Homo sapiens: one gene and its partners. The protein of the gene in region 1 purifies or fractionates together with the protein of each later gene. This does not show direct contact. Each region holds a gene or a part of one and is shown in the gene's direction. Other genes may lie near its edges. The genes, in order: FOXO3, PPP2R1B, CDC27, ARHGEF2, FOXM1 and PINK1.

Region 1 (3,500 bases):
GCCTGATGTAGATCTGGCCTTCCTCTGGAGTGGATGTGGAGCCTTGATGCCACTGACTCATCTGTATTACTTGTTGCCTAAAACTCAGAACTAAAAGAGATCTTAAAGATCATCTAACTACCTTATTTTGCAGGTGAGAAACATGCTAGGACTATGTGAGTGACTGGGTTCAGGGTTCCACAGCTAGTAGGGGTGGAGTAACGGGTGTGTCCAGTCAGTGCAGTGGTTCATGCCTATAATTTTAACACTTTGGGAGGCCAAGGCAGGAGGATTGCCTGAGGCCAGGAGTTTGAGACCAGCCTGGGCAACAAAGTGAGACCTCGTCTCTACCAGAAAAAAAGAAAACTAGGCCAGGTGCGGTGGCTCATGCCTGTAATCCCAGCACTTTGGGAGGCCCAGGTGGGTGGATCACCTGAGGTCAGGAGTTCGAGACCAGCCTTACCAACATGGTGAAACCCTGTCTCTACTAAAAGTACAAAAAGCTAGCCGGGCATCGTGGCGCATGCCTGTAATCCCAGCTACTAGGGAGGCTGAGGCAGGAGAATTGCTTGAACCTGGGAGGCGGAGGTTGCAGTGAGCCAAGATTGTGCCGTTGCACTCCAGCCTGGGTAACAAGAGCGAAACTCCATCTCAAAAAAAAAAAAAATTAGCTCTGTTGTGGTGGTGCATGCCTGTAGTCCCAGCTGCTTGAGAGGCTGAGGCAGGAGGATCCCTTAATCCCAGGAGTTTGAGACTGCAGTGAGCACGACTGCACCACTGCACTCCAGCCTGGATGACAGAGTGAGACCCTCTCTCTCTCTTTTTTTTTTTTTTTTAAAGCGTGTGTTCATACCACTGTACTGTAGTGTCTACTGCCTACCATTGTGGTTTCACAGCTGTTCATCTCAGTGCTGTTTGCCTCAAGTTCTTCAAGCTCTTCACTTGCTGTCTTCTGCTTCTCCTCCCCTCTTCTAGGCTAGCTCGCACTGGAGTCGCTGTGTTTCTCCTTTTGTGTTCTCCATCAGCACTCTCTACTTACCTTGCTAAATGCCTTTTCTTTCAACGCCACCTTACCCTGCCCACCCCATGGCTGCTACCTGTTTATTTTGTCATTTTGCTAAGACTGTTGAATATTTTTAAGCACAGTATAAGAGGCTTTAAATTAGGGAATGTGTCTGCCAGACAAATAAGTGTTTCTAATATTTGGAGCTGCTTTTTGGATTTTATAATCAACCCATATGGATAGCCTTAGTTCTGGGGCTGTGACTCTGAAAGGGGCTGATGTGACTCAGGAGTGAGCTGGTGTCATGAGTGGAGTCTTTTGGATACTTGCAGCTCTGAAGGTGGCATCAGCTTTAGACCTCCTAGCATCGATGTTGATGTGATGTGGTGTAAATGTGAGATGATGCTGTGCTATCTGGGGTTTCTTGCAGTGCCTTGTTACCCAATGCATAAGTCTCTGAAAACTCCATAAGTGTCCATCACTACTTACCACAGAAACTGAAGGAAGCCTGATCTTGGGATGACCTTGTTGCATTAAGAGAAAAAGGAAATGAAGTTTGCCATCTGTATGTAAACCCGCTATTTGTATCATCAACATGCAGTGTCGAGAAAGTCACCATAGAATTGTTTTGCCTAAAGTTTATTTTACTCACTTTTAGGAACAAAGCTGTTATGTAAAGCCTTAGTTGTTTGTAATGTTCTGCATTTTGGGGCAGAAGTCCCAAATGTACTTCAAGTTTTCTGTCCATGGATTGGGAAATAGAAGTCATGTATGAAAGGAGAGGAGATAGCAGACAGTCTTTGAGATGAACTATTTCAAGGACCAGTCTGCAGTTCTTCCAAGTTAGAGTTCTGAATATGTGGTTAGGCTAGTGATGATGATAGAACACCCCAGTTCTGACTGCATCATTGCCCAGACAGACCCAGTATCTTTCACCATTTTATTCCTGACCAAACAACGTTCATTTCCCAGTATCTTAGTCTCTCCTAAAGGAAAAAGAACTACGGTAGCTGGCATCCATAGAGTACTGTGATGTACCACTCTTGGTAAAACGGAAATGTCTGATTGGAGTGTGTTTCAAGCCAGGCTTTTCTATAATTCGCTTGTTCCACTTTTCACTCCTGAGTTTTTGAGGTTTTAATCTTGAGACTTTTTCTCTGCAGTGCCTCAGTTACTACTATGGAATAACATAATAAGCGAAGAGGATGACTTCTCTGCTGGGCTGTGGTTCTTCTAGTAATTCCGCTACTCCTGGGTCATTGCCTGGGGTGAGGAGGCCAGGTTATCTTCTGGAGGCTCACCACACCTTGGTGTCCAGATGTGCCCTAGGACTGCAGTGGAGAGGTGAGCACAGAGTAAGGAAAGCATGTGGCACATGTGTAGGGGGCAAGGCTGGAGCAGGAAGTAAACTCTCCCCCAAACAAACAAATAAACAAACAGCATACATTACCTTCCTTCTGGAGTGAACCTATAGTAAACCCAACAGAGATGTGTTTGGCAGTTTTCAGTACGTGTTTAGGAATTTGTTTGAAAACCATTAGGGGGTGGGGTGGGGTGGAAGAATCCACATCATGTTTTCCCTTGCGTGGTTTTTTTTTTTTTTTTTTTTTTTTTTTTTTGAGACAGAATCTCGCTCTGTCGCCTAGGCTGGAGTGCAGTGGCGTGATCTTGGCTCACTGCAAGCTCCGCCTCCTGGGTTCATGCCATTCTCCTGCCTCAGCCTCCCAAGTAGCTGGGACTGCAGGCGTTCGCCACCACTCCCAGCTAATTTTTTGTATTTTTATTAGAGACGGGGCTTCACTGTGTTAGCCAGGATGGTCTTGATCTGCTGACCTCATGATCTGCCTGCCTCGGCCTCCCAAAGTGCTGGGATTACAGGCATGAGCCATTGCACCCGGCTCCCTTGTGTATTTTTATTTTAAATTTTTTATTTGAGACAAGGCCTTGCTCTGTCACCTAGGCTGGAGTGCGGTGGCACAATCATAGCTCTCCACAGCTTCAAACTCCTGGCTCTCTCTGTAGAGAGCTATGATCCTCCTGCCTCAGCTGCCCTAGTAGCTGGGACTACTAATGAGCGCCACGACACCCAGCTAATTTTATGTTTTTTTTGTAGAGATATGAGGTCTCACTTTGTTGCCAGGTTGGTCTCAAACTCCTGGGTTCAAGCGATCCTCTTACTTGGGCCTCCTAAAGTGCTGGGATTATAAACATGAGCCCCTGCAACCAGCCTTCCTTGTATTTCAGATGTCTAGTGAAGTTAGTTAAGTTAGCCCTTGAAGGTATTGAGAATTTACTTTAAATTCAGAGCCAGCAGAGGGAGTACACAAGTCTTTAAGCTGATGTCAAGTATTTTTTTCTCCACACAGCTAAAATAATACCTTGATTATTTTTTAAAGAACTCTGATATATAGTGTTTCCATGTAAGTTTATTGTCATCATTAGAAAAGGAAAATTTAGGAGAGGGGGTGTGGAGATTAAAAACTTAAAGCAAGTGTTTTAAAGGAAACCCTGGTCTTCT
Region 2 (3,500 bases), on another chromosome or scaffold:
AAGGCTTTTTATGACCCGCCTCTGTAGGATTATCATATGCCCAGTGGTACTGCATGAGAAGAGGTGACAGTAGGCAGGGAACAGACTGCAAAAGGCCTTGATAACCTCTTCCATTCACATTGGTCATCTTTCTGTTTTTTGAACTAACCAAGCTCATTATTCCCTTAGGACCTTTGCCCTAGGTCTTCCCTCTAATGAAAAGCTCTTTCAAGCTTTCTGTGGCTGGCTCCTTGTCATTCAGGGATCAACTTCAATGCATCTCCTCAGGGAGGTTTTCCCCAACCACTCAACTTAAAATAGCCTCACAGTCATCCCTTACTACATCATCCTACTCCTTTTTTCTATAGAGTACTCATCACCATCTACTTATTTTCTTGATTGATTGTTGTCTTACTCCATTAGAATGTAAATGCCACTAGAGTGAGGAACCTTGTCTGCCTTGTTTCTTCTGTGTCCTCAATGCTAGAATATACCAATAATAATGTATTGAAAAAATGAGTTTCAGAGGCTTGGAAGCATGAAACAGGCTGGGTTCAAAACTGCCGGAGTGTGGCTGGGTGTGGTGGCTCACACCTGTAATCCTTGCCTTGGGAGGCCAAAGCAGCAGGAGGATTGCTTGAGGCCAGGAGTTCAAGATCAGCCTGGGCAACATAGTGAGACCCCAACACTTAAAAAAAAATAGCTGGGCATGATGTCATGTGTCTGAGTCCTAGCTATTCGGGACGCTGAGGCAGAAGGACGAGGAGTCTGAGGCCGCACTGAGCCATGATTGTGCCACTGCACTTCAGCCTGGGCAACAGAGCAAGACCCTGTCTCTTAAAAAAAAAAAAAAAAAAGAACTGCTGGAGTGTGAAGTGTTGAGGCTGGGTAGGCAGAGTGGTCATCAAGGGCCAGGCAGAGTTCAAATCAAGAGACCACTCATAAGCAATTCTCAGGAGCATGGCCTCATCCTGTAGTAATGATAGCTATTATCCAGTGGTACTGCACGAGAGGGGGTTACAGTAGGCAGGGGACAGATCATGAAATGCATTGGCAAGTGAGAAACAGTATCTTTTCAATGAGTTTCTGAAATACCTTCTAGGAAAGCTGAATACTGTCTACCTGTGTGTATCAAACAATTTTTAAAATATATTATTAGACACACTTCTTTTCTTTAACTCATTATGCTTCTGTTTCACTCTTGGTTAGTTCTATATGTGGGTTTTATGCTTTAAAATCTGTAGCTCATGGCATGTGTAGAATCTACCTGGACTACATGCAAACTCAGTAAGGCAGAGGTTCAGAGAGCCAGCCTGTTTACACTTTTTACTAGGCCATGCCATATTCAGTTACTGCTCTTAATCCAGACCATCCACCCCATTTGGCTTCTTTTATTTCTAAAGCTGTAAGCAAGGTGTCCTACCATCTCTGTACTTTACCTTTTTTTTTTGAGACAAGAGCCTCACTCTGTCACCCAGGCTCAAGTACAGTGGCACAATCTCGGCTCACTGCAACCTCTGCCTCCCGGGTTCAAGTGATTCTCATGCCTCAGCCTCCTGAGTAAGCTGGGTTTACAGGCGTGTGCCACCATGTCTGGCTAATTTTTGTATTTTTTGTAGAGACAGGGTTCCACCATGTTGGCCAGGCTGGTCTCGAGCTCCTGACCTCAAGTGATCTGCCCACCTCGGCCTCCCGACGGCTGGGATTACAGGTGTGAGCCACCGTGCCTGGCCAGTCTCTGTAGTTTTCACTTGATTGTTCTGTCAGAAACTCCTTTCTGCCCTATGGCTAATGGAAAGTTGCTGAATGTGTTCTGAAAAAAGCAATTTTGCATTCAGCATTTTATAGGTTGGATAAAAGGATGGGATGGAGATGGTGGATAAGGGTTGCTTGCACCTCTGGGAATGGTGGAAAGATACTGAAAAGGCTGTGGACTCAGTGACCTGACAAGCTGTTATCCTGTATTTGTGGTGCCTAACATTGGTCATAGTTTTGTACTTACTCTTGAGGAAATATACATGATCCTGTCTGAATTTGGCTATGTATCTTTTAAACCTAGTGATTCAACTCACAGTAATATTAATATTGTGTCAAGTCTTTTACACTGTGTCATTTGTAGACACCATCTGGGAATTGCCATCTGGGACACGAGATCTTGGCTTTTCTACAGAAGTCGTGTCTTTGGGTTGGCCGCACCATATGTTATCACTGTGTGAGCTGAAAGTAACCATTTGGTATGATGCAGCTAACATTCTGGTTACGTGTACCACCTCCCTTCAGTCACTTTAAAAGGTGATTATCTGTTTCTAACCTGATTCAATAAGTTTTCTTCTCTGGTTTTCCTTTTTAATCCATTCAGCCTCCTTTGGAAAATCTGGCAACTGTGGAAGAGACTGTTGTTCGTGACAAGGCTGTGGAGTCCCTGAGACAGATCTCCCAGGAGCATACTCCTGTTGCTCTGGAAGCTTATTTTGTACCTCTGGTGAAACGCTTAGCAAGTGGGGATTGGTTCACCTCTCGCACATCTGCATGTGGTTTGTTCAGCGTTTGCTATCCCAGGGCATCAAATGCTGTTAAAGCAGAAATCAGACAGTAAGCCATGGTATTTTTTTGCCTTGTTAAAGCAGAAATCAGGTAGTAAGCTATGAGTTATTTGGGATTACTGGGGACTTGTAGCTGACAATTTACATAGTACCTTGTTACCAATGAGTGGCTGATACTAGGATAGTAGGATTTATGACATCTTTCTTTTTTTTTTTTAAGAGATAAGGTCTTGCTCTGTTGTCTAGGCTGGAGTGCGGTGGCACAATCATAGCTCACTGCAACCTTGAACTCTTGTGCTTAAGTGATCCTCCAGCCTCAGCCTCCAAGTAGCTAGGACTACCGACATACACTACTGCGCCTGGCTAATTTTTAAAAAAAATTTCTGGCTGGATGCAGTGGCTCATGCTTGTAATCCCAGCACTTTGAGAGGCTGAGGTGGGAGGATTGCTTGAACTCAGGAGTTCAAGACCAGCTTGAGCAACATAGTGAGACCTTGTCTCTACTAAAAAGAAAAAAATTAGCTGGGCATGGTGGGACCCGCCTGTATTTCTAGCTACTCAGAAGGCTGAGGTGGGAGTTCACTTGAGCCCCCGACAAACAACAACAAAAATATTTTTGGCATATAGATAGGGTCTTGCTATGTTGCCCAGTCTGCTTTCAATTCCTGGCCTCAAGCAGTCCTCCTACCTGGGCCTCCCAAAGTGCTTTGATTACAGGTGTGAGGCACCATGCCTGGCCTATGATGTCATTTTTTATTATCCAGTTGAATATGTTTTATTTTTGTTACTTCTATAAGTAGAAGCTTAGTCACTGATTATTGTAAGATAAAACCTCTAAAAGTCTGTCTGTGTGTATGGGGGGCAGGTTTATTCAGTGTTATTTGATGGGAAATACCTTCATTGTTTTATGTTGCAGGCAATTCCGTTCCTTGTGCTCAGATGACACACCAATGGTACGACGTGCTGCTGCTTCCAAAT
Region 3 (3,500 bases), on another chromosome or scaffold:
AAAAAACACCCTAGAAATAACCCAAATGTCCACATGCTGTAAAATAGATAAAATACATTTTGGATTTTGATATGTTTATACAATGGAAATATTATTTATTCAGCAATGAAAACAAATGAACTCTAGCTACACACATCAAGAATGAATTTTCAAAACATTGGATTTCAAAAGCAAATCGTAGCAGAATGTATACAATATGATTGTATTTATTTAAAGTTCAAAAACAGGAAAAAGTAAATGTTATACTGCTTAGAGATGATATGTACAAATGTATAAAATTGTGAAGAAAACCAAGAGAAAGGTCAAGAAAATTCAGTGTGGTGGTTTCCTCTTTGGGGCAGGGAGAGGTTTTGGTATCAACAAGGAACACACAGGGAGTTTCAGAGATATTTTATTTCTTAAGCTGGGTGGTGAGTACATGGGCCTAAATGTCTTTGGTTATTGTTACTTAAAATGTCCTTCTATCTCATATATACTTTAGGTTATATGTTTTGTAATTCTAAAAGAGAAAACATATATTCAAAAAATTAAAAGTTATTCCTATGATAACTTTACTCATTTGCATTCCAATATGCTTCCTGGAGTGGATGAGAATTGAGTGGCATTAAAGGTAATAGATAGGGAAGTTTTTGTGGGAGGATGACATACATTTTAATATCTCTGTCATGTATATCACATAAAGTGGTTGAGAACCACTGCTGCTAAAAGTCTGTAGTTTAGTAGGGTTGGCAGTCCTGTTAACAAATAACCATGTTATGAGTGCTCTACTAGAAGAGGTATCTTAAAAAAGAAATGGCTTGACATCAGCCAGGAAAGCTTTATGGGGCAGATGTTATTTAAGCTGGATCTTTAGGGACGAGCAGTTTATAAGGGGAGACTGGTGAGGGGAGCCCACATTGCCCAATGGAGGAAAAGGGTGTACAAAGGCACAGAAGCCTAAAAGTCCATAGAGAGTTGAGTGAGGAAATTCAGATATGTTAGGAGCCATACTGTGAAGAGCCTTGCCCGGCACACTCTGGAGTTTGCTCTGTGGGCATTGGGGTTTTATCACTTAAATTAGGGATATTAATTTCAGTATTTGATGTAAGGCTGTGTGCTAGTAGTTACCTTGAAAGTCTGTATGTATGTATATTTATGTTCTTTTTCCTCCATTTGCAGGCTGCTATATGGCAAGCACTAAACCACTATGCTTACCGAGATGCGGTTTTCCTCGCAGAACGCCTTTATGCAGAAGGTTTGAAATCTATTCATTGCTGTAGAATGATAAATGAATAACATATATGAAATTCCATAACTTTTTATCACTGTAACAAGATTCTAGCTATCATCATCTTGTTGTTTTTCTGATTGACACTAGTTCATAAAATCTTTACTTTTTTTCTGTGTAGTTCCCTTACATACTACTTTTAATAACTATGTAGAATTGATTCAGGTTTATATGCTATGATTTACTTAATCATTTTTCAATCTTTAGGTTTTTTTTTCCCCCAGGGTTTTTGTTGTTTTGGGTTTTTTTTTTTTTTTTTTTTTTTTTTTTTTTTGAAACAGGGTCTCACTCTGTCACCCATGTTGGAGTACAGTGGGACCATCTCAGCTCACTGCAACCTCTACCTCCCAGGCTCAAGCGATCCTCCCACATCAGCCTCCCAAGTAGCTGGGACCGCAGGCACGGACCACCACGCCTGGCTAATTTTTTTTTTTTTTTTGGTAGAGATAGGGTTTTGCTATGTTGCCCAGGCTGGTCTCAAATTCCTGAGCTTAGGTGATCCACCTGCCTTGGCCTCCCAAAGTGCTGGGATTATACTCATGGGCCACCATGCCATGTATTTTTTTTTTTTTTTTTTTTTTTTAAGAAAAGAGTCTGTATTCTATGGTGAAGAACATGGATTTAGACTCTATAGCCTTGGAACAAATCCTAACCTGTCACTTAAATGTACAGTTTTATAACCTTGGACGAGTTACTTTAATATCTGAAAATTCAGATATTTCATCTATAAAATAATCATTGCCCCTTAGAATTAAAAATTCAATGAGATGGTTTATTTAAAGCCCTTAGCACAGCCATCTGGCTTGGTAATCAATGCTTAATAAACACCACTGATAATGTATGTTTTGTTTCTGTCATTATTATAATTCCCTTTCTAAGATGCTGATATAGATCATTGTGTACAGCTTTTTTTTTTTTTTGAGTCATTTCCTTGGGTTATGTACTTTTAAATGGAATTTACAAGTCAAACAGTATGGGTTTAGTAGCTGAGAGTTGTGAGAACAAGGCCTAAACCTCAGGGGCAGGAAATTTCACAAAAGGACAAAGAGCAATGCTTGGAAGTAGTTTTGAGAAGTTAAGTGGAAACCAGCCTTACCTTGACTCTGAGATAGTGGGATGTAAGGTGATTACTGTCCATGTGAGAGAGCTGTCTCCTCGGTGGAGAATGGGAATTCAGTGAGAAAAGTGAGGAAGATCTGGGCAGCAGGAGTTTAAGGTCCCAATGAAAAGATTAGAAAGGTGAGAAGGAATGGAAGGCTTAGAAAGAAGATTATACAATAGATTAATCTACTCCATTCACTTATGCAAAAGTGATGTTTATTGTGAATAATCTATTTAAAAATATTTTCATTGATACCTAGGCAGGCCCCATATTTTGCTGTATTTTTAAAAATTTTTGTTGAGTCAGAATCTCACTCTGTCGCCCAGGCTAGAGTACAGTGGCACAATCATAGCTCACTGCAGCCTTGAACTCCTGGACTGAAGTGATCCTCCTGCCTCAGCCTCCCAAAGAGCTGGAGTTACAGATGTGAGCCACTGTACTCGGCCACTGTCTTCTATTTCTAGTATTTCCTTTTTGTTTTTGTTTATTATTAAAGAATAGGCAGTTTCTAGTTTATTATAGTTAGGCTCTTAAAAATTGTAAATTCATGGTTTAGAATTCAATTAGATTTTCCCATAGAATTGGTGGCAAGATTCCCAGATTAGTCCACATAAAGCTGTTTAATCCACGTTATTTATGTACCTGATACAATGCTTGGCACTTGGAAAGTTGCTCAGTAAATGTTAGTTTCTTTCAATATAGAACCTCACCATTCGGTTTAACCATATTTATATGAGGAAAGATTTTAGAATTAAGTGTAGTAAGAGCAGATACTATCCTGGCTCAGTAATAATAACAATAATTCTATCACTTATTGATTTCTTACTGTATACTAGGTACTCTAAGTATTTAATATTAGTTACTAATTTAATCTTCAATAATCCTATCAAATAGACATTGCTATTGCCATTTTCTGGATGAAGAACTGAGACTAATGTCCACAGGCGGTAACTAGTAATCTGTCTGATTCCGCTTTCCCAAGAGTAGCAATTACCACTTCTCTGATTTGCAACCATAGTAGGCATCACTAATCCATTACAGTACTCATTCCCACTGAACCAACCTCAGAATTCTTGGCAACAGTTTTCTTGGTGGACAATATCAGTTGATATGCTAGATGTAACCTGTTTG
Region 4 (3,500 bases), on another chromosome or scaffold:
ACAGCAGCTTCCTGCAGCAGCATAAAAAGGAGGTGATGAAGCAGCAAGATGTCATCTATGGTAAGCCAAGACCACCCTAGTCTTCCTCTTCCTTCACCAGGTCCTGTTTATCTACTTCCTTCTTTATTTTTCTTTTTCTTTTTTTTTTTTTTTTTGAGATGGAGTCTCACTCTCTCAACCAGGCTGAAGTGCAGTGGCATGATCTCGGCTCACTGCAGCCTCCACCTCCCAGGTTCAAGCGATTCTCATTACAGGCGCCTGCCACCATGCTGGCTAAGTTTTGCATTTTTAGTAGAGACGGGGTTTCACCATGTTAGCCAGGCTGGTTTCAAACTCCTGACCTCAGGTGATCTGCCCGCCTCAGCCTCCCAAAGTGCTGGGATTACAGGCGTGAGCCACCGTACCCGGCTGTGTCCTTCTTTCTACCAGCCCCTACCTCTCAAAACCCTTTCCCTCTTGGCCTACAAGACCCTGCCTGGTATCCCACAGGTTGCCCACTAGGTCCCTACCTCTTGATGCTGTTGGTCTCCAACACCCTCTCTTTATCCCTTCTTTATCTCTGTCTTCAGTCTTTACTCTGTGCTTGTTCCACGCTTAACACCGTGCTGGAGACTGTGGGAAGCCTCGACATGTAGAAGACATATGGTTCTTACCCTAAAATAGCTCACAGCTTGAGATGATAAGGTGTAAAGATAAAAAATGGAACTGGGCGTGGTGGCTCATGCCTATAATCTCAGCGATTTGGGAGGCCGAGGTGGGAGGATCACTTGACGCCAGGATTTTGAGACCAACCTAGGCAACAAAGCAAGACCTCTGTCTCTAAAAAAAAAATATATATATATATATATGTATATATATATATATATATATATATATATATTTTTTTTTTTTTTTTTTTTTTTTGAAGCAGAGTCTTGCTCTGTCGCCCATGCTGGAGTGCACTGGCGCTATCTCGGCTCACTGCAACCTCCGCCTCCCAGGTTCAAGCAATTCTCCTGCCTCAGCCTCCCAAGTAGCTGGGATTACAGGCGCCTACAACTACACCCGGCTAATTTTTGCATTTTTAGTAGAGACAGGGTTTCATCATGTTGGCCAAGCTGGTCTCGAACACCTGACCTCAGGTGATGCACCCGCCTCGGCCTCCCAAAGTGCTGGGATTATAGGCGTGAGCCACCGTGCCCAGCCGTCTTTAAAAAATATTTTAAAAAACTAGTCAGGTGTGGTGGCATGTGCCTATAGTCCCAGCTACTTGGGAGGCTGAGACAGGAGGATCGCTTGAGCCCAGAAGTTCGAGGCTGCAGTGAGTTATCATTGTGCCACTACACTCCAGCCTGGGCACCAGAGTAAGACCTCATTTCTGGAAAAAAAAAAATAATAATAAAATTTTTGAAAGATAAAAATGAGGGCCGGGTGTGGTGGCTCATGCCTGTAATCCCAGCACTTTGGGAGGCCGAGGTGGGGAGATCACGAGGTCAGGATTTCGAGACCAGCCTGACCAATATGAAGAAACCCCATCTCTACTAAAAATACAAAAATTAGCCGGGCCTGGTGGTGCGTGCCTGTAATCCCAGCTACTCAGGAGGCTGAGGCAGGACAACTGCTCGAACCTAGGAGGTGGAGGTTGCAGTGAGCTGAGATCGCGCCATTGCACTCCAGCCTGGGCAATACAGTGAGACTCTGTCTCAAAAAAAAAAAAAAAAAAAGATAAAAATGATTAGAAAAGTATCTAAGATCATAATAATGCAGAATATTAACCTGGAATGGACCTTGAAAACCTCACGTGAACTGTGAGGTCCTTATCCTAGGGCCCCACGAGTTTTAGCCAAGCCAGGGTAGAGGCCAAATGTCCCAATGTCCCCCACAGAGCTAATCCAGACAGAGCTGCACCATGTGAGGACACTGAAGATCATGACCCGCCTCTTCCGCACGGGGATGCTGGAAGAGCTACACTTGGAGCCAGGAGTGGTCCAGGGCCTGTTCCCCTGCGTGGACGAGCTCAGTGACATCCATACACGCTTCCTCAGCCAGCTATTAGAACGCCGACGCCAGGCCCTGTGCCCTGGCAGCACCCGGAACTTTGTCATCCATCGCTTGGGTGATCTGCTCATCAGCCAGGTGGGAAAAGGCAGGACCCCTGGGTGACATTCATGGAAGGAGGTGTGACTGGGTTGGGCATTTCTTGGGTCCAAATTCTAGGGGTTGGAGGGGAGCCAGGGAGAGCTGGAGAAACAGGAAGCCAGCCTGTTTGGCAGGAGGCCAGAGGTGTGTCCAGTGGGTAAAGTGTGGCTTTGGGGGAATGCTGACCTAACCTTACTCGACCAACTTCTAGTTCTCAGGTCCTAGTGCGGAGCAGATGTGTAAGACCTACTCGGAGTTCTGCAGCCGCCACAGCAAGGCCTTAAAGCTCTATAAGGAGCTGTACGCCCGAGACAAACGCTTCCAGCAATTCATCCGGGTGAGCGGACCTCTCCAGATCCCATGCTCATGGCCCAAACCCACCCTCCCCAACTCATGGGGGTAGTGCCTGTGAGCTGCACCCACATGGAGGTCAGGCATTCGCCACCCGTGCAGACCATCCATACACAGATCCTGTCAGCAGTAACCCCTCAGAATGCTAGAGCACGTTGTGGTAGTTTCCCAAGTACTTTTTGCTCCTTCAGTTGGTCCTCACAACAAACCTGTGGCGTTGTTATCCCCATTTTCCAGATATGTCACCTAGGCAAGCATGAGGTAAATGGCCACGCCAGGGCCAGCACCAGAGCTCAGGCCCCAGGCCTTTCTGTTGCCCTCCCCTCTGGCCCTGAGCCCTGCCTCCTCCCTTGTAGAAAGTGACCCGCCCCGCCGTGCTCAAGCGGCACGGGGTACAGGAGTGCATCCTGCTGGTGACTCAGCGCATCACCAAGTACCCGTTACTCATCAGCCGCATCCTGCAGCATTCCCACGGTGAGTAGGCAGGCCCAGGAGAGGGCCACTGGGAGACGGCCACCTGGGGTGAGGAAAGGCTCGGTATGACCACAGGAAGGGTGGGGTCGGGTGTGAAACCCTGGGCAGCCTCTAAAGGTGGAATCAAGACACGATGGGAACTGGGGTGTGAGTGAAACTGGTTGAGCCGTTCCCCATGCCAACCCCCGGTGCCAGGGATCGAGGAGGAGCGCCAGGACCTGACCACAGCACTGGGGCTAGTGAAGGAGCTGCTGTCCAATGTGGACGAGGGTATTTATCAGCTGGAGAAAGGGGCCCGTCTGCAGGAGATCTACAACCGCATGGACCCTCGGGCCCAAACCCCAGTGCCTGGCAAGGGCCCCTTTGGCCGAGAGGAACTTCTGAGGCGCAAACTCATCCACGATGGCTGCCTGCTCTGGAAGACAGCGACGGGGCGCTTCAAAGGTCAGACCTGCTCGGCAGACTAGGCAGGAATTCAAAGTCAGATGGAGAGTGGGAGATGCCTGCAGGTCTTAGAATCAACCTCTCTTGGCCGGGTGCAGTGGCTCAACGCCTGT
Region 5 (3,500 bases), on another chromosome or scaffold:
TTTTTTTCTTTTTGAGACGGATTCTCTCTTTGTTGCCAGGCTGGAGTGCAGTGGCACAATCTCTGCTCACTGAAACCTCTGCATCCCAGGTTCAAGTGATTCTCCTGCCTCAGCCTCCCGAGTAGCTGGGACTATAGGCGCCCGCCACCACGCCCGGCTAATTTTTTTATTTTTAGTAGAGATGGGGTTTCACCATGGTGGCCAGGATGGTCTCAATCTCTTGACCTCGTCATCCACCCGCCTCAGCCTCCCAAAGTGTTGGGATTACAGGCGTGAGCCACCGTACCCAGCCTAGTTCCTACTTATAAGTGAGAACATGCAATATTTGGTTTTCTGTTCCTGCATTAAATCGCTTAGGATCATAGCCTCCAGCTCAACAATCTTTAAAAGTGAAAATTTGGCCAGGCGCGATAACTCATGCTTGTAATCACAGCACTTTGGGAGGCCAAGGTGAGTGGATCACCTGACGTCGGGAGTTCCAGACCAGCCTGACCCCGCCTCTACTAGCAATACAAAATTAGCTGGGTGCAGTAGTACATGCCTATAATCCCAGCTACTCGGGAGGCTGAGGCAGGAGAATCACTTGAACCCAGGAGGCAGAGCTTGCGGTGAGCCAAGATCGTGCCATTACACTCCAACCTGGGCAACAAAAGTGAAACTCTGTCTCAAAAAAAAAAAAAAAGTGAAAATTTACATGCGTGTATATGTAAGTAAATATTAATTGTGCTATATACATAAAATTTGTGTACTTTAGAAAGTAATATCTCCAATTTTAAAAATGTGAATGAGACCGGGCATAGCGGCTGACAATTGTAATCCCAGCACTTTGGGAGGCCAAGGTGGGCAGATTGCTTGAGCCCGTAAGTTCTAGGCCAGCCTGGGCAACATAGCAAAATCCTGGTCTCTACTACTAAAAATACGAAAAAAAAAAAAAAAATCGCCAGGCGCAATGGCTCATGCCTGTAATCCCATCACTCTGGGAGGCCAAGGTGGGTGGATCACCTGAGGTCAGGAGTTCGAGACTAGCCTGGCCAATATGGTAAACCCCATCTCTACTAAAAATACAAAAAAAGTAGCTGGGCGTGGTGGCAGGCACCTGTAATCTCAGCTACTTGGGAGGCTGCAGCAGGAGAATCGCTTGAACCCAGGAGGCAGAGGTTGCAGTGAGCCGAGATCGTACCATTGTACTCCAGCCTGGGCAACAAGAGTGAAACTCCATCTCAAAAAAAAAAAAAAAATTAGCTGGGCGTGGTGGTGTATGCCTGTAGTCCCAGCTACTTGGAGGCTGAGACAGGAGGATCACCTGAGCCTGGGAAGGTCAAGGCTGCAGTGAGCTGTGATCCAGCCACTGCACGCTATCCTGGGTGACACAGTGAGACCCTGTCTCAAAAAAAGAAAAAGAAATGTGATTGATCAGCTCTTTGCCTAAAACTTAGCTAACTGTGTGCTTTGCAGACATTGTCTGACTCATAGTCTTGAGAATGTTTCTCTCATACAAACATTGAAATGAGATGCGTTTATTCACAGCACATCAGGAACAGAAATGGGACTAAGACCTAGGTTTCTAGACCCAAAAGTCTGAAAAACGGGCGTGGTTTTAGTGTAACATCAATGCTTTGAGAATCAAAGTACATACTCAAACTTTCCTAAGAAATTTCAACTGGAAGGGACTGGATTTTCTCCAAATTCAACAAAATGATGGATGACAAAACCAGTTTCTTATTGGCTAGGGTCTAGGCTAGATCATCTCCAAGATTCTTCCCAACTCTAAAATTTTATTCTATGAGATAGTGGTCTCAGATGAGTTTGTTTCTAGACCGTCCTATGGGATAAAGGTTTCTCTAGATGTTCTTCAAGGGCTTGGGTTGGGGGTGCTTCTCATGAACTCTTTCATGTCATTCCCTGTGTCATAACCCTCAGGTTGAGGAGCCTTCGAGACCATCAGCGTCCTGGCAGAACTCTGTGTCTGAGCGGCCACCCTACTCTTACATGGCCATGATACAATTCGCCATCAACAGCACTGAGAGGAAGCGCATGACTTTGAAAGACATCTATACGTGGATTGAGGACCACTTTCCCTACTTTAAGCACATTGCCAAGCCAGGCTGGAAGGTAATGTGTCCCACAGCAACCAAAATCAAGGTCAGCCCAGCCTGACAGTCTCTCCAGTGCTGTACTGCAACTTGTATCTGGGACAGCAGTTAAGTGCAAAGGACACTAGAATGATAAACAAATGTATCTTTTAGATTGTGACTCAATCTTATTGAATCCAGGCAAAATCATTAAGAAGAGCTCCTTAACTACTTCATGTGTTACTACCTAAAGTCCATGGAGGGTCTTCAATGTAGCACTCAAGCCCACTTTTCTGCTACACTCAACAGCCGTCCTAGATGCCAGCAGCTAGAGTGGCTAAGTAGTTTTATGAAAATGTCTTGATTAAAAAAAAAAATGCTGTCTGTGAGCCTCATGACCCAAGATGTCATCTCCTGTAGCGTCACATAGCATTTCTAGTGGGCAGGGGTTTTCCTTTCACTTCATTCATGGAAAGACCGAGATGCCTGTGAGTCAACATAGCTCACGCAGTTGGTCGGTGTCAGAGCCACAAATGAGGTCTTCTGACGGGTGCTCAATTCCAAGTCAAGTGTGCTTTGTTTTCCTCATGGTAGAACTCTTTCTTTTTTTTTTTTTTTTTTTTGAGACAGAGTCTCGCTCTGTCACCCAGGCTGGAGTGCAATGGCAGATCTCAGGTCACTGCAACCTCCTCCGCCTCCAAGGTTCAAGCGATTCTCCTGCCTCAGCCTCCCGAGTAGCTGGGACTACAGGCATGCGCCACCACGCCTGGCTAATTTTTTTGTATTTTTAGTAGAGACAGTGTTTCACCATGTTGGTCAGGCTGGTCTCGAACTCCTAACCTCAAATGATCCACCCGTCTCGACCTCCCAAAGTGCTGGGATTACAGGCATGAGCCACCACACCTGGCCCCTCATGGTAGAACTATGTTTTTTTTTTTTTTGAGATGGAGTCTCGCTCTGTCACCCAGGCTGGAGTGCAGTGGCGCGATCTCGGCTCACTGCAAGCTCCGCCTCCTGGGTTCACGCCATTCTCCTGCCTCAGCTTCCCGAGTAGCTGGGACTACAGGCGCCCGCCACTACGCCTGGCTAATTCATGGTAGAACTTTTAATTTTACTCCCTTCCATCAGCTTACTTTCCTAGTTTTTTGTTTGTTTGTTTTTTGAGACAGGGTCTCACCCTGTTGCCTGGGCTGGAGTGCAGCCTCAGCCCCCTGGGCTCAAGCTCTTCCCTCCTCAACATCCCAAGTAGCTGGGATAACAGGTGCACCACCACAGTCCGCTAATTTTTTTTTTGTAGAGACAGTTGCCCAGGCTGGTTACTATGTTGCCCAGGCTGGTCTGAACTCCTAGTCTCAAGCACTCCTCCTGCCTTAGCCTCTCAGTGCACTGTGATTACAGGCGTGAGCCACCACACCCAGCCTTAATTTC
Region 6 (3,500 bases), on another chromosome or scaffold:
TCTATGCCAACTACTGTACTAGACTTGGAATAATGGAGAAAATTCAGGCACAGTCCTTGCTCTTAGGGAGCTCACATGATTACTCATTGATGAATATCTCTCTCCCCTGATAGACTGCAAATCCATGAGGACAGGGACTCTGTCTTGTTCTGTGCCATAGTTCCACAGCATTCCAGCATGATGTCTGGTACTCAGCATGCAAACAGTGCGTATTGGTTGAATGAATAATAGTACAGCTAATAGCAGCTGAGAGCTTCCTCTGTGCTAGACACGATTCTAGGTGCCTTCCACACTTTGACAACCTTATGCAGCGTGTTAACACTGCATTCCCCTTGCACCCTGGAGATTGAGCCCAGAGAAGATAAGGACAGAGGGGACACATTCCAAGATAGATCCCCCAGTGGATGCCTGAAGCCACAGATAGTAACAAACCCTATATATACTGTGTTTTTTCCTATACACACATACCTATGGTAAAGTTTAATTTATAAATTAGGCACAGTAAAAAATTAAAGATAACTAATAAAATAGAATAATTATGACAATATACTGTAATAAAAGTTATGTGAATGTGGTCTCTCTCTCTCTCCTCTCTCTAAATATCTTCTTGTACTCACCTATTCTCAAACTGTAGATAACTGAAATTGCAGAAAGCAAAACTGTGGATAAGGTTGGGGCTACTGCAACTCAGCCAAGGACTTACAGTGGCAGACCTGGAATGCAAACCCAGGCAGTCTGATACCAGGGTTTCTCCACCTGTGTTCTGCCACATGGGATGGATAGGATGGATGGGTGTACGGATGGACGGACGGACAGACGGATGGACAAATGGATTGAAGGATGGGTAGGGGAGTCATCAGATGTGTTCTCCAACACCATGTACAGTACCTGGCACATAGCAAATCTATGATAAACATTTGATAGTAAGTGAATAATGAATGTCAGTGCCAGTGTTGGTGTGGCCTTAGGTTATTCTTTCCAGGTGTTGTATCTGATGCTGGCCTCATATGTTTGTCTCACTTGGCTGACTAGAAAATCCAAGAGAGGTCCCAAGCAACTAGCCCCTCACCCCAACATCATCCGGGTTCTCCGCGCCTTCACCTCTTCCGTGCCGCTGCTGCCAGGGGCCCTGGTCGACTACCCTGATGTGCTGCCCTCACGCCTCCACCCTGAAGGCCTGGGCCATGGCCGGACGCTGTTCCTCGTTATGAAGAAGTAAGTGACAGCAGCGCGGCAGGGCCTGGAGCTGATACATCTCCCAAGGGGAGCTGGTTCCTGCCCTCCATGTGCACCTTGATCAGGGGGTTTTGGAGAACAGGGTCATCACCCTTCCGGAGAAGAAAGCCATGCAAAGGGAACATATCTGCCCTGGAGAGCATTTTCCCTGTAGGACGATTTTTCATGGAAACAAACTCTCATCTTCATCCAGAACATACTTGTCACCTAGTCCTTTTGGTCCATTTGACTGTTAACCTTTTCTGTGGCTGGACTTATCTGTTTTTAACATAAAAACCGTTCTCCTTCCTCACCCTCTGTATCCCCTAACTTTGCTATAGTGGGTATTTTATTTTAAGGAAATAATTATCTGCACCATTACTTTGAATATAGGGAGCCCCAACTCTTACTTCCTAATTTGAGGATGGTGAGTGGGAGGGAACAGAAAGGATGCTGGGGAAAAGTGGGAATCAAAGTGCTCCTGGAAGGGGAAGAGGAACGGCCTAACCCTAACAGTGATTAAGGTTATTAGGAGGCCGGGAATGGTGGCTGACGCCTGTAATCCCAGCACTTTGGAAGGCGGAGGTGGGTAGATCACTTGAGGTCAGGAGTTTGAGACCAGCCTGGCCAACATGATGAAACCCTGTATCTACTAAACATACAAAAATTAGCCTGGTGTGGTGGCGGGCACCTATAATCCCAGCTACTCGGGAGGCTGAGGTAGGAGAATTGCTTGAACCTGGAAGGTGGAGGTTGCAGTGAGCCAAGATCGTGCTACTGCACTCCAGCTTGGCGACAGAGTGAGACTCCATCTCAAAAAAAAAAAAAAAAACGTATTGGGAGTCGTCGATGTGTGGTAGCCAGAGGCCCTCTCCCCTCTCCGCCAGCTATCCCTGTACCCTGCGCCAGTACCTTTGTGTGAACACACCCAGCCCCCGCCTCGCCGCCATGATGCTGCTGCAGCTGCTGGAAGGCGTGGACCATCTGGTTCAACAGGGCATCGCGCACAGAGACCTGAAATCCGACAACATCCTTGTGGAGCTGGACCCAGGTAGGAACCTGCTGCACCATCAGAGCTCTCCAGGGGCACTAGAGGGTGGGTCAGGAGCATTTAGGACTGACTCTTCAGGTCCTCTCTGGTTTTGTGTTCTAAGTCATGTCTTTATTTAGCTCCGCACACAAGAGGTTAGCAATCTCTCCCTTAGAACGGGGTTTTTTTTTCTCTCTTTGCAGAGAGACAGCACTTCCCAAGTTCCTTTCTCTAGCCCACTTAAAGAACAAGGACCTCAGTGCTGCAAGTTTTCCTAGGTAAATAAAGAGGCCCGGCACAGTGGCTGACACCTGTAATCCCAACACTTTGGGAGGCTTGCTTGAGGATTGCTTGAGGCCAGCAGTTTGAGACCAGCCTGGGAAACAGAGTGAGATCCCTTCTCTACAAAAAAAAAATATGTTTTAAATTAGCCGGAAAAAAAGTTAGCCAGGCATGGTGGCATGCACCTGTAGCCCCAGCTACTTGGGAGGCTGAGGTCGGAGGATCACTTGAGCCTAGGAGTTAAGAGTCTGCAATGAGCTATGAATGTGCCACTGTACTCCAGCCTGGGCAGCAGAGTGAGATCCTATCTCAAAAAAATAATAAAAAATAATAAAGTAAAAGAGAAGTAGACTTTAGCTCATTATAAAAAATAACTTTCGGCCGGGGGTAGTGGCTCACGCCTGTAATCCCAGCACTTTGAGAGGCTGAGGCGGGCAGATCATGAGGTCAAGAGATCGAGACCATCCTGGCCAACATGGTGAAACCCCATCTCTACTAAAAATACAAAAATTAGCTGGGCATGGTGGCGGGCGCCTGTAATCTCAGCTACTTGGGAAGCTGAGGCAGGAGAATTGCTTGAACCCGGGAGGCGGAGGTTGTAGTGAGCCGAGATTGTGCCACTGCATTCCAGCCTGGCGACAGAGTGAGAGTCCATCTCAAAATAAATTAATTAATTAATTAAATTTTTCAAACAATGAAAGCTGTCCAAATGTAAGCCCAGTTGCCTCTGGAAATGAGTTGCCTACCACTGGAAGCATTCAAGTAGAAGCTGAATGGCCACTTGCCTAGGAAAATTGTAAGGAGATTCATACATCTGATAAATTTTTGAACTAGAAGATTTAAAATAATTGACTAGAGGAACTGGCTTTTATTATTTCTTTATTTATTTACTTATTTATTTATTTATTTATTTGAGACAGAATCTTGCTTTGTTGCCCAGGCTGGAGTGCAGTGGCGCCATCTCAGCTCACTG

What was found.
Region 2: the proteins of FOXO3 (region 1) and PPP2R1B purify together in Homo sapiens (affinity purification with mass spectrometry, with the first as the bait; one large-scale study listed by BioGRID). This does not show direct contact.
Region 3: the proteins of FOXO3 (region 1) and CDC27 purify together in Homo sapiens (affinity purification with mass spectrometry; one large-scale study listed by BioGRID and IntAct). This does not show direct contact.
Region 4: the proteins of FOXO3 (region 1) and ARHGEF2 purify together in Homo sapiens (affinity purification with mass spectrometry; one large-scale study listed by BioGRID and IntAct). This does not show direct contact.
Region 5: the proteins of FOXO3 (region 1) and FOXM1 purify together in Homo sapiens (co-immunoprecipitation; one study listed by IntAct). This does not show direct contact.
Region 6: the proteins of FOXO3 (region 1) and PINK1 purify together in Homo sapiens (affinity purification with western blotting; one study listed by BioGRID). This does not show direct contact.

The regions. Positions count from the first base shown.
Region 1 is NC_000006.12:108,567,417-108,570,916, forward strand, and holds part of FOXO3 (forkhead box protein O3), read left to right. Parts: exon of another isoform or gene 1-133; intron 134-816; exon of another isoform or gene 817-2,326; intron 2,327-3,500. UniProt on the Homo sapiens protein: Transcriptional activator that recognizes and binds to the DNA sequence 5'-[AG]TAAA[TC]A-3' and regulates different processes, such as apoptosis and autophagy.
Region 2 is NC_000011.10:111,759,890-111,763,389, reverse strand, and holds part of PPP2R1B (serine/threonine-protein phosphatase 2A 65 kDa regulatory subunit A beta isoform), read left to right. Parts: intron 1-2,338; coding exon 2,339-2,571; intron 2,572-3,438; coding exon 3,439-3,500. UniProt on the Homo sapiens protein: The PR65 subunit of protein phosphatase 2A serves as a scaffolding molecule to coordinate the assembly of the catalytic subunit and a variable regulatory B subunit.
Region 3 is NC_000017.11:47,179,296-47,182,795, reverse strand, and holds part of CDC27 (cell division cycle protein 27 homolog), read left to right. Parts: intron 1-1,158; coding exon 1,159-1,234; intron 1,235-3,500. UniProt on the Homo sapiens protein: Component of the anaphase promoting complex/cyclosome (APC/C), a cell cycle-regulated E3 ubiquitin ligase that controls progression through mitosis and the G1 phase of the cell cycle.
Region 4 is NC_000001.11:155,961,548-155,965,047, reverse strand, and holds part of ARHGEF2 (rho guanine nucleotide exchange factor 2), read left to right. Parts: coding exon 1-60; intron 61-1,864; coding exon 1,865-2,115; intron 2,116-2,329; coding exon 2,330-2,455; intron 2,456-2,825; coding exon 2,826-2,943; intron 2,944-3,138; coding exon 3,139-3,387; intron 3,388-3,500. UniProt on the Homo sapiens protein: Activates Rho-GTPases by promoting the exchange of GDP for GTP.
Region 5 is NC_000012.12:2,867,175-2,870,674, reverse strand, and holds part of FOXM1 (forkhead box protein M1), read left to right. Parts: intron 1-1,920; coding exon 1,921-2,112; coding exon of another isoform or gene 2,113-2,157; exon of another isoform or gene 2,158-2,461; intron 2,462-3,500. UniProt on the Homo sapiens protein: Transcription factor regulating the expression of cell cycle genes essential for DNA replication and mitosis. Plays a role in the control of cell proliferation. Also plays a role in DNA break repair, participating in the DNA damage checkpoint response.
Region 6 is NC_000001.11:20,643,458-20,646,957, forward strand, and holds part of PINK1 (serine/threonine-protein kinase PINK1, mitochondrial precursor), read left to right. Parts: intron 1-1,032; coding exon 1,033-1,215; intron 1,216-2,102; coding exon 2,103-2,266; intron 2,267-3,500. UniProt on the Homo sapiens protein: Serine/threonine-protein kinase which acts as a sensor of mitochondrial damage and protects against mitochondrial dysfunction during cellular stress.